Homo sapiens: one gene and its partners. The protein of the gene in region 3 purifies or fractionates together with the protein of the main gene of each other region. This does not show direct contact. Each region holds a gene or a part of one and is shown on either strand. Other genes may lie near its edges.

Evidence for each region.
Region 1: the proteins of ZDHHC15 (region 3) and ZNF211 purify together in Homo sapiens (affinity purification with mass spectrometry, with the first as the bait; one large-scale study listed by BioGRID). This does not show direct contact.
Region 2: the proteins of ZDHHC15 (region 3) and CD84 purify together in Homo sapiens (affinity purification with mass spectrometry, with the first as the bait; one large-scale study listed by BioGRID). This does not show direct contact.

What each region holds. Positions count from the first base shown.
Region 1 is NC_000019.10:57,631,536-57,635,288, reverse strand, and holds the start of ZNF211 (zinc finger protein 211), read right to left. Parts: upstream 2,122-3,753; 5' UTR 1,943-2,121; coding exon 1,853-1,942; intron 1,577-1,852; exon of another isoform or gene 1,384-1,576; intron 1,267-1,383; coding exon 1,228-1,266; intron 661-1,227; coding exon 534-660; intron 472-533; coding exon of another isoform or gene 351-471; intron 1-350.
Region 2 is NC_000001.11:160,541,447-160,545,099, forward strand, and holds part of CD84 (SLAM family member 5 isoform 2 precursor), read right to left. Parts: 3' UTR 1-3,653. UniProt on the Homo sapiens protein: Self-ligand receptor of the signaling lymphocytic activation molecule (SLAM) family.
Region 3 is NC_000023.11:75,512,888-75,516,540, reverse strand, and holds part of ZDHHC15 (palmitoyltransferase ZDHHC15), read left to right. Parts: intron 1-3,653. UniProt on the Homo sapiens protein: Palmitoyltransferase that catalyzes the addition of palmitate onto various protein substrates.

The DNA of each region.
Region 1 (3,753 bases), on a different chromosome or scaffold from region 3:
TGAAAATGATTAAAATGGTAAATTTTGTTATATATATTTTACAATTAAAAACAAAGAAAAACACCTTGAAGGAGGTTTCTATAAGAACAGTCTGTGTAATGTCTCTGCGGCACAATTTGTTAGAGTGTTCTGCTGTTAATGGAAAGGTTGGTGGTTGAAGAACAGTCTGTGTAAATAGTGGCAATGTCAGTGACTACATTTCATGTCACAGTCTAGCACAAATAAATGTTAGGTACACGAAGGGAGGGAAAACTGGGTGCCATAGATCTAGAAAGTCACCAGACAGGGAGAAGGCAAGTCAGGTGGGATCTATTAGGCTTACTGTAAGACTACTGATCCCAAATCCTTACCCAAGATGCTTTTGGGCTGGGACGATAAGGGAAGTAGGCTTGCACTCAGTCCACAACATCTACCCAGGGAACTGGGGAAGGAGGCAGTGCCTATAGTCCAGATATGAGGACAGAGCTGCTCCTGAGGAAAAGGAGAAACAGAGAGCCTAGTCCAGGGCACAAGGGTGAGTATGAGGGCCTTACCCAGGGAGGACGTAAGTGCAAAGTTCTCCAGCATCACATCGAAGTACAGGTGTTTCTGAGCCTCATCAAGGAGATCCCATTCCTCCCAGGAGAAGTACACGGCCACATCTTCAAAGGTCACACTTCCCTAGCATAATAGGGATTGATGAAACCATGAACAGTCTCAATTTGGAAGACTCAAAATCCATGTCCCCATACATTCTCCTCCCAAGATCCCCAAGTCAGAAGAGACACCAGACCTTGGTGTCATTGATCCCTGCTGTCTCTTCACATTCCCATTAGTCACTGTGTTCATTCTGTTTTCCACTCTGTATCCTGTCAACACTTGGGTTAGATAAATCTCCCTCCTCTGATCCCAAACTCCAACTTCCTCACAATAGATGCCAAACTTCACAGAAATAAAGGAAACCTGCAGTTCCCTGAACCAGCTCAGCCTCACCTCCAAGGAGTTCCAAAAGCTGGTACCTACCTGTTTCTATCATAAATTTTCACCCATCTTTCCATTGGCTGCTCCAAATGGAAACATTGGCCTGGACTCAGGGCCCTTAGCTCAGGGATTCTCCAGGGTTCCCAAACCAAACGCTGAGAGAATGGTAGGTGAGTCCCATGACACCACAAATCTAAAGAAAATATCTGTCTGGGGAGGGTGGAGGGACATTCCAGACCAGTGAGGGGCTGAGATACCTCCACTTACCTGTGTAAGTTTGAAAAGCACCTCTGTAGCTATGGGAACCTGTGGAAAGACGCAGGCCTCAGAGGAATGTGATCATGGCAGTGCTCCATGGGCACAGGCCTTCCCTGTACCCTTGCCCCGGCCCAGAGCCACGTAACTTTGGGTCGACTGTCTAACCTGTGCGCCTCGGTCCTTAGTGCTGCCTCTCACCAGTTGTGTGGCCTTGGAAAAATATTCAACCTCCCTCTGCCTCAACGTCCTCATCCATCTCTAAAGTCTTTTCTTCCACTGAACAGCCTGCAGAGGATTTTTCAAATTTAACTCAGATGGTGTCTCTCGTTTGCGCAAGCTCTCTATGGCTCCCACGGCCCTAAGAATAAAGGTAGATCTCTCTCAAACTTTGTTCCCTGCAGTAACAATGTGGAGCCCAGGTTCCTGAATGCCCCCTTCTCGGTTGCCCGTCCAAGCCCTGCACGCGCCGGTCCTGTCCCTTGTCCCCCTGCCCACCACATCGGATGTCAGAAATAGGGGCCCCACCCACGAGCCTCAGTGTCCCCGACCCTGTGCTACAGAGACGTGAGCTGGTGCCTCTCACTTGGGACTTAAGAATCTCGGCCGGGGGAGGCCCGGAGATCGCAGCGCTCACCGAAGCCGGGTCCCTCAGTGCGGTCGCCATCCGAGTCTGTGGGCGGAGCTGGACCGGGAGCTGCGGGCGACCCGGGGGGAACCCGAGCATCGCTATCCCCAGGCCGGCCTCGCGGGCGGCTCTGCCCCCGACCCTCAGACCTGACTCTCGCGCCTTCACGGTCCGTCACTTCGATCCCGATGCAGCGTACCAAAGCGGCTGACAGACAGAACGGACCTCCGGGAGGGCAGCCAAAATGACCGCTGCGAAGACGCCACAAGTCCCGCCCTGGGGGGGGCGGGGGTAGACCCACACGGAAATGCCCCTGTCTTGGATTTTCATTGGATCAAAGTACTGCCGCTCGACGCAAGGCTTTCTGGGTAATGTAGTCTCCCCCAGGCTGCGACGGAGGGCGCCTTGTGTGCAGACAGCTGGGAGCGCTAGGAAGCTGCGTCTGCTGCCTTCCAGGGCGACTGAGGGGCTTCGGTGTTTGAGGTCTTAAGTAGGTTGACACTTGAACAACACAGGTTTGAGCTGTGCGGGTCCATTTACACGTAGGCGTTTTTTTTCCCCAATAAACGTTACTTCGAGTGTGCTCCTTTTCCTGCCTCTTCCAGCTCCCCGACCTCTTGCCCCAGAGACAGCAAGACCTCATTCTCTTGCCCAGCATGAAGAACACAAGGATGAAGACCTTTATGATGATCCACTTCCACTTAATGATTAGTAAATGTATTTTCCCTTCCGTATTCTTTTATTTTCCTTTTTTTAATTGGGTGTAATGTCAACGAGCCTCTTACAATTTTCCTGATACCCTTTCTCTGGTCTGTTTTAGTACAAGTATAGTTCTTATACTAAAATATATATAATGCATATATCATACAAAATGCATATATCATATATATTATGCATATATCATGCATATATCATACAAAATGTGTTAATCGACTGGGAGTTTATGTAATTCATAAGGCTTCCGGGCAACTTCATAAGGCTTCCGGGCAACAGTTGGCTATTAGTAGTTAAGACCTAGGGGAGTCAAAAGTAATACAAGCATTTTCAATTCCGCAGGGGTCGGTATCCCTGACCCCTGCGTCGTTTAAGGGTCAGCTGTATATCAGTCTCTAGTGTAGAGGTTCACTTCAGTATTTAGACATCATTTCAGATTCCATGCAGCCCACCCCAGCAGATCTCCACTGGTAGTGGGAAGCGAAAAAACGTTATCTTATTGCTCTTCAAATGCATGCAGCCTGAAGTGTTAAAGTCACTTTTTGTAGGTTTTGTCAGGGACAAAAGACACCAGACAGGGCTACAATGGGAAGATAGTGGAGGGATAGTGGGCAGCCCTGAAGCCAACGGACAAGGGAAGTTCCCTGCTTCTGGTGCCCCCAGAAAACGCTCTCCTGCCTGCAAAGTCAGTTTTGTTCATAAAACATGAAGCTTTAATACATGAATGTTCATTTTCCTTGTATAATCAAAACATTTAATTTTTTTTTGAGACAGGGTCTCACTCTGTTGTCCAGGCTGGAGTACAGTGGAACAATCATAGCTCATTGCAGCCTCCACTTCCTGGGCTCAAGTGATCCTCCCACCTCAGCCTCTTGAGTAGCTGGCACTACAAGCACACCACCACACCCGGCTAGTTAAAAAAAAAATTATTGTAGGAATGGAGTCTCCCTATAGGGCCCAGGCTAGTCTCAAACTCCTAGGGCCATGCAATCTTCTTGCCTCAGCCTCCCAAACTGCTGAGATTACAAGCATGAGTCACCATGCCCAGACAAAAGTTTTTAATGCATAAAATATCAAATTATTATCATTATTTTAAACAGGGCCTCACTCCGTCGCCCAGAAAGTTTATATTATTTTAAGGTACATATATGCACATTGTTAAATGTACACATATACATTTTATATATATTAGATAG
Region 2 (3,653 bases), on a different chromosome or scaffold from region 3:
TAAGAAATACCATATCTATATAATTATCAGAGAATGTGATAAAAAGCTACTACTCTGTACTTGTGTGCCAAATGCTGTAAAAGTATAAATAGAGGGCAATATATTTCGCTTTGGACGGGAGGTTTTAGAAGGCCGCACAAGAGGGATATTCAGTCTGATGCTTGATGTAGACAGAAGGGAGAGAAGGGCATCCCAGACAACATGGGCAAAGGCATGGGAGGATTTGGTGGGTGTGTGGGCCCATGATAATTCTGTGTGGCTGGAGCCTTAGGGAGCAGGCAGGAGACAGCCTGGAAGGTCTGATGGGTCAGATTGCTAAGGAGTGTGGTTCCCCAGGAAAAACATTTTAGTGTGGAAGTGAAGTGATAAGATCCTCATTTTAGAAAGATTGCTCTTTATGTAATAGCAACCCAGGTAACACGTGATAAAGCAATGATCTGAGGGAGTGAGCATGTAGAGGGAAGGTGTATTAGAGAATTAGGCCAATTAAGGGCACATGCCTGAGAGGAGCCATATAGAGAAGTTGGAATTGACAGGACCTATTCTCTGACTAGATGTAGAGGGGATCTGGGGTGACAGGGAGAATGAAGGAGCCAAGGATGAAAAAGTTTTCTGCCTTGGGTAGCTGCTGATTGGTGAAGCAGTGAAGAATAGCAGTTCTGCACCCAGCCCCTGGAGTTGAATCCTGGCTTTTCTATTTACTAGGATGAGCTACTGTGATTCAGCCTTAAAGACTTCACCTTTCTGTGACCCAGTTTCCTACTTTGTAAAAGAGAGCATGGTTGTATCTTCTTCAGAAGGCAGATGAGATTTAATGTTTCTTATGGACTTTAAATGAGTAAATGTAAAACAGGACAGGGAATAGTACATAGTAGGCACTGGATAAATGTTAATTATTTTGATTATGGTGGATCATTAGCATAGGAAAAACACAAGGAAAGCAAGTTGGGAGGTCAGAAACAGACCTGTGAGTTAGATTTTGGACACGCTAAACTTGAGGTGACTTCTGACATCTATGCAGAGATGACCCATAAACTATTGGAAATACAAGTTGTAAATGAAAGAGTTGAGATTATGAGCATTTAAAAATTCTCTGATGAATAATCTATGTAATTATTTGCCTACAATAAGAACTTATAAGAAAAATATTTCTCATTTGCAAAGATTTGGCCATTTTCCAGTCTCAGAATTGATCCATCCCAAACCCAGAGACTTGTACAGGGCTGTTGAGAACTGTCTGGGCAATCAGCCAGCAACAGTTAATAATTATCATCCATTCCTTTATGAATTCCCAAAGTCTGCAAGTCTCTAGAGAATGTATTAGTCATTACTTTCCTCCCTCAAGTCAGAATTCAGGACTTTTTTAATGGTCCTTTGTCGAAATGTATTAACACTTTCATATGTTTTGAAAAATTACTGGACCCCTCACACTTGGATGGGGGCTTATTTAAGTCTAAACATGCACAGTTGTTTTTTTTAACCACTAAATTGTTCAGCACAATTCCCCAAATTCTTATCTCTTCTTTTGTTTCTGTTATTTTTGTGATTTTTAGTAGTGGAAATTTACAGTTTCTCTTATTTTATATTAACTCATCAGAATGTTTATGACCTGAAACCCCTGCCTGTCCAAAATGCATATAGAGAGCTCTATCCAACCTTCTTTAATTAAATGGGCATTTTCAGCAGGAAAGTTGAGTGGTTATCCAGATAGCAATGGAATTAATATATTAATATATTTACTTTGAGCTGCTTTTAGTACCTTAAAATATTACTATATGCAAATATTCATTTAGTAGATATTTGTGGTCCACCTATTATGTGTCAAGCAAAGTGCCAGGTGTGTGTACACCTAAGGCCAAGTACCAGGTAGGGAGAATCCACAGGAGGTAAAAAAGGGCCACATGGCAGAGTACAAGTGCATGGCCCTTGGTGACAAGAAGTCTTGAATTCAAATACTGTCTTCCCAGCTTTCCAGATTTGCCAAGGTATTCATATGTCAGCCTTAGTGTTAACTGGAAGAATTAATTTCTACTTTACAAGGCTGTCATGAGTATTGACAACAATGTATGAAGCATCTAGTTTAGCAGTTGGTATACAAAATAAGCCCTCAATGATTCTTACAGGCTCCCTATCTTCAAGGAGCTCTCCATTATTATTTATTATTATTATTATTATTATTATTATTTAGGTATATCCCCTGTTCTCTCAGTCTAACTGGGGAGGCAGATATAGCATCAGGTAAGTAGACTGTGGTATAATAACGAGGGGAACAAACATTGCTTATAACAAAATATATCTGAATAAGGAGGGATGAGAGTTAAAAGTTTGATATACAACATTAATTTTGCATAATACTAGCAGCATTTCTGTTGTAAGAAGCTTATTTCATGAATTTAGATTAGCATCTTCTGAAGATTTCAGGCCTAGAACAGCTTATAAAAAATTTCCCGAACTTTGCCATGCACAGGCACATTCCTGTATGAGCAACACCTCATTTAATCCCCACATCAACCTTAAAAGGTAGGCACTATTATTATCCCCATTTTACAGATGGACAACCTGAGGTACAGCGAGGTTAAAGTAACTTGCCTAAGGTCACATGACTAAGAAACCAGGATGCAGACCCAGGCACTCTACTGTCAGAGCCCACATTTATGACCACTCATTATATTTCCTCTTATTGTCTTTGTTCTTCAAACTTTTTTTTTTTTTTTTTTTTTTGAGACGGAGTCTCACTCTCTCGCCCAGGCTGGAGTGCAGTGGCGTGATCTCGGCTCACTGCAACCTCCACCTCCCAGGTTCAAGTGATTCTGTTGCCTCAGCTTCCTGAGTAGCTGGGACTACAGGCACGTGCCACCATGCCCGGCTAATTTTTTTGTATTTTTAGTAGAGACGCGGTTTCACAACCTTGGCCAGGCTGGTCTCGAACTCCTTGTGATCCACCCACCTTGGCCTCCCAAAATTCTAGGATTACAGGCATGAGCCACTGCGCCTGGCCTTCAAGCTTCATTTTACAATCAGTAGACACTGTCACTAATTATTGAGAAAATTTATACAAATCAAGGGAAATTCAGAGAAAAGTCAAACAGAAGAAAAATAATGAGTCTGGAAGAAAATATAGCCCAGCCATTCCTTCTCTCCAGGCAGGACCTAAGAAGTGCTCTCTGTGGACACGGCCCAAACCAGACAGGCCCCTTCCTGCCTGTGCCCGATTTCCAAGCTGGCCCAACCAGGCTATTCCCTCATAGCCTGTGTAGTTTACAGTGTTCTACAGATTTTTTAAATCATATTTTAAACAAGCTTCACTTTCTTCTTCTAAGAATCATGAGCTGCAACATTCCTCATTTTCTCAGTTGAGTCCCTCAGTAAAGCCCAAGGTGTCTGCAGGCAGGACTGTCCTAACCTACTAGAACTTTCCACCAGAGGGCTCTGTCTCTGAGACTTCCATTTTGATGCACATTTTTAAAAACTGGCACACTTTGGTCTGATACAAGATCCTGTTCCATGATGCTTTGATTTTATAGACCTCTTGGTCACAGTCTAGTTCATCTGGAAAGTTGTGGAGGGGAAAATAAGATCACATGCATTTTACAGAAGGAAAATCTAAGAACTAAGACCTAGAGAGAAGGGTGAACAGATAACGTGTTCATGAA
Region 3 (3,653 bases):
TTCTACATCTGGCTAGCCAGTTTTCCCAGCACCATTTATTAAATAGGGAATCCTTTCCCCATTTCTTGTTTTTGTCAGGTTTGACAAAGAGCAGATGGTTATAGATATGTGGTATTATTTCTGAGGGCTCTGTTCTGTTCCATTGGTCTATATATCTTTTTTGGTACCAGTACTATACTGTTTTGGTTACTGTAGCCTTGTAGTATAGTTTGAAGTCAGGTAGCATGATGCCTCCAGCTTTGTTCTTTTGGCTTAGGATTGTCTTGGCAATGCAGGCTCTTTTTTTGGTTCCACATGAACTTTAAAGTAGCCTTTTCCAATTCTGTGAAGAAAGTCATTGGTAGCTCGATGGGGATGGCATTGAATCTATAAATTACCTTGGGCAGTATGGCCATTTTCATGATATTGATTCTTCCTATCCATGAGCATGGAATATTCTTCCATTTGTTTGTGTCCTCTTTTATTTAATTGAGCAGTGGTTTGTAGTTCTCCTTGAAGAGGTCCTTCACATCCCTTGTAAGTTGGATTCCTAGGTATTTTATTCTCTTTGAAGCAATTGTGAATGGGAGTTCACTCATGATTTGGCTCTCTGTTTGTCTGTTATTGGTGTATACGAATGCTTGTGATTTTTGCACATTGATTTGGTATCCTGAGACTTTGCTGAAGTTGCTTATCAGCTTAAGGAGATTTTGGCCTGAGATGATGGGGTTTTCTAAATATACAATCATATCATCTGCAAACAGGGACAATTTGACTTCCTTTTTTCCTAATTGAATACCCTTTATTTCTTTCTCCTGCCTGATTGCCCTGGCCAGAACTTCCAATATGTTGTTGAATAGGAGTGGTGAGAGAGGGCATCCCTGTCTTGTGCCAGTTTTCAAAGGGAATGCTTCCAGTTTTTGCCCATTCGGTAGGATATTGGCTGTGGGTTTGTCATAAATAGCTCTTACTATTTTGAGATACATTCCATCAATACCTAGTTTATTGAGAGTTTTTAGAATGAAGGGCTGTTGAACTTTTTCAAAGGCCTTTTCTGTGTCTATTAAGATAATCATGTGGTTTTTGTCTTTGGTTCTGTTTATATGATGGACTACGTTTATTGATTTGCATATGTTGAACCAGCCTTGCATCCCAGGGATGAAGCCAACTGGATCTTGGTGGATAAGCTTTTTGATGTGCTTCTGGATTCGGTTTGCCAGTATTTTATTGAGGATTTTGCATCAATGTTCATCAGGGATATTGGTCTAAAATTCTCTCTCTTTTTTTTCTTTGTTGTGTCTCTGCCAGGCTTTGGTATCAGGATGATGTTGGCCTCATAAAATGAGTTAGGGAGGATTCCCTCTTTTACTATTTATTGGAGTAGTTTCAGAAGAAATGGTACCAGCTCCCCTTTGTACCTCTGGTAGAATTCGGGTATGAATCCATCTGGTCCTGGACTTTTTTTGGTTGGTAGACTATTAATTATTGCCTCAATTTCAGAGCCTGTTATTGGTCTATTCAGGAATTCAACTTCTTCCTGATTTAGTCTTGGGATGGTGTATGTGTCCAGGAATTCATCCATTTCTTCTAGATTTTCTAGTTTATTTGCATAGAGATGTTTATAGTATTCTCTGAAGGTAGTTTGTATTTCTGTGGGATCAGTGGTGATATCCCCTTTATCATTTTTTTATTGCGTCTATTTGATTCTTCTCTCTTTTCTTCTTTATTAGTCTTGCTGCTGCCTCACAATTCTATCTCGGACTGCTGTACTAGCAGTGAGCAAGGCTCCATGGGCGTGAGACCCACCGAGCCTTGCATGGGATATAATCTCCTGGTGTTCCATTTGCTAAGACCATTGGAAAAGCACAGTATTAGGGCGGGAGTGTCCCGATTTTCCAGGTGCAATCTGTCATAGTTTCCCATGGCCAGGAAAGGGAATTGCCAGACCCCTTGTGCTTCCTGGGTGAGGTGATGCCCCGCCCCGCTTCGGCTCACACTCCATGGGCTGCACCCACTGTCCAACCAGTCCCAGTGAGATGAACCTCGTACCTCAGCTGGAAATGCAGAAGTCACCTGTCTTCTGTGTTGCTCACGCTGGGAGCTGTAGACTGCAGCTGTTCCTATTCAGCCATCTTGGAATGATCCTGTTGAATACCAGCTTAATTTAATAGTATACAAAACCCAGCCGTTTACAGCTCTGTTGCCCCCTTTATGCTATTATCACAAATTACATCTTTATACATTGTATACTCCTTAACGTAGATTTATCATTGTTGTTTTATGCATTTTTTCCTTTAAATTAGATAGTAAAAAGAGTTAAAAAAAACGTAAAACTCAATATTACTTGCTTTTGTAGCTACCTGTATAGTTTACCAGTGTTCTTATTTTTTTGTATAGCGTGGGTTACAGTGAGTGCCTTTTCAGTTTTTCTAAAGAATGCCCTTTGGCATTTCTTGAAGGGCAATTCTACTAGTGATCAGCTCCCTCAGTTTTTGTTTATCTGAGAATGTCTTGTTTTCGCTTTCATTCTTTGAAGTATAGTGTTGCTGGACATAGAGTTCTGTATATGTGTTGACAGATGTTTTTCTTTTTCTTTCAGCAATTTAAATATCACATTTCACTGCCTTCTAGCCTCTGTGGGTTCTTAAGAGAAATCAGCTGTTAGTCTTATTGTTTTTTTTTTGTTATGTAAAAAGTCAATTTTCCTGCTTTCAAGATTTTCTTTTTGTTTTTTGGCAATTTGACTATAATGTGTCTGATTGTGGATATCTTTTAGTTTATTCTATTTGGAGTTCATTGCACTTCTTGGATGTTTAGATTCATATTTTTTACCAAATGTATGAAGTTTTTTAGCCATCATTTTTTCAAATACTCTTTCTGTTTTTCCTCTCTTTCCTCTCACTTTGGAAGCCCCGTTATGTGTATATTAGTATGTTAGGATATAGGCTGTATATTAGAGTGTAGGCTCTATTATTGTATATAGTAGAGTGTAGGCGGCTGTCCTCACAGCCTCTACTGATCTGGGATGTGGAGGATGGTAGGCAGCCACTTTAAAATGTCACAGTATCCTCTTACTACAAAGCATCAGTTCTTTTCTTCACCAAGTCTTCCTCTCTGGTTATTGTAACAATTTTACTAGATTCCAGAGTTCTGCAAAAGTTTATTCTGACAGTTTTTGCCAGCTCATTAGTTGCTTTTGAGGAGGGATGTAAGTCTGGAGTACTCTTAGTTTTGGTGCCCAATAGTATCCATTCTGAGATTAAAAAATAAAAATAGCTATGATATAATTCTACTTGAAAGGTAGAAATTTTCCGAAGAGACATGAAGTCCTTGCCCACGCCTATGTCCTGAATGGTAATGCCTAGGTTTTCTTCTAGGGTTTTTATGGTTTTAGGTCTAACGTTTAAATCTTTAATCCATCTTGAATTGATTTTGTATAAGGTGTAAGGAAGGGATCCAGTTTCAGCTTTCTACATATGGCTAGCCAGTTTTCCCAGCACCATTTATTAAATAGGGAATCCTTTCCCCATTGCTTGTTTTTCTCAGGTTTGTCAAAGATCAGATAGTTGTAGATATGTGGTGTTATTTCTGAGGGCTCTGTTCTGTTCCATTGATCTATATCTCTGTTTTGGTACCAGTACCATGCTGTTTTGGTTACTGTAGCCTTGTAGTAT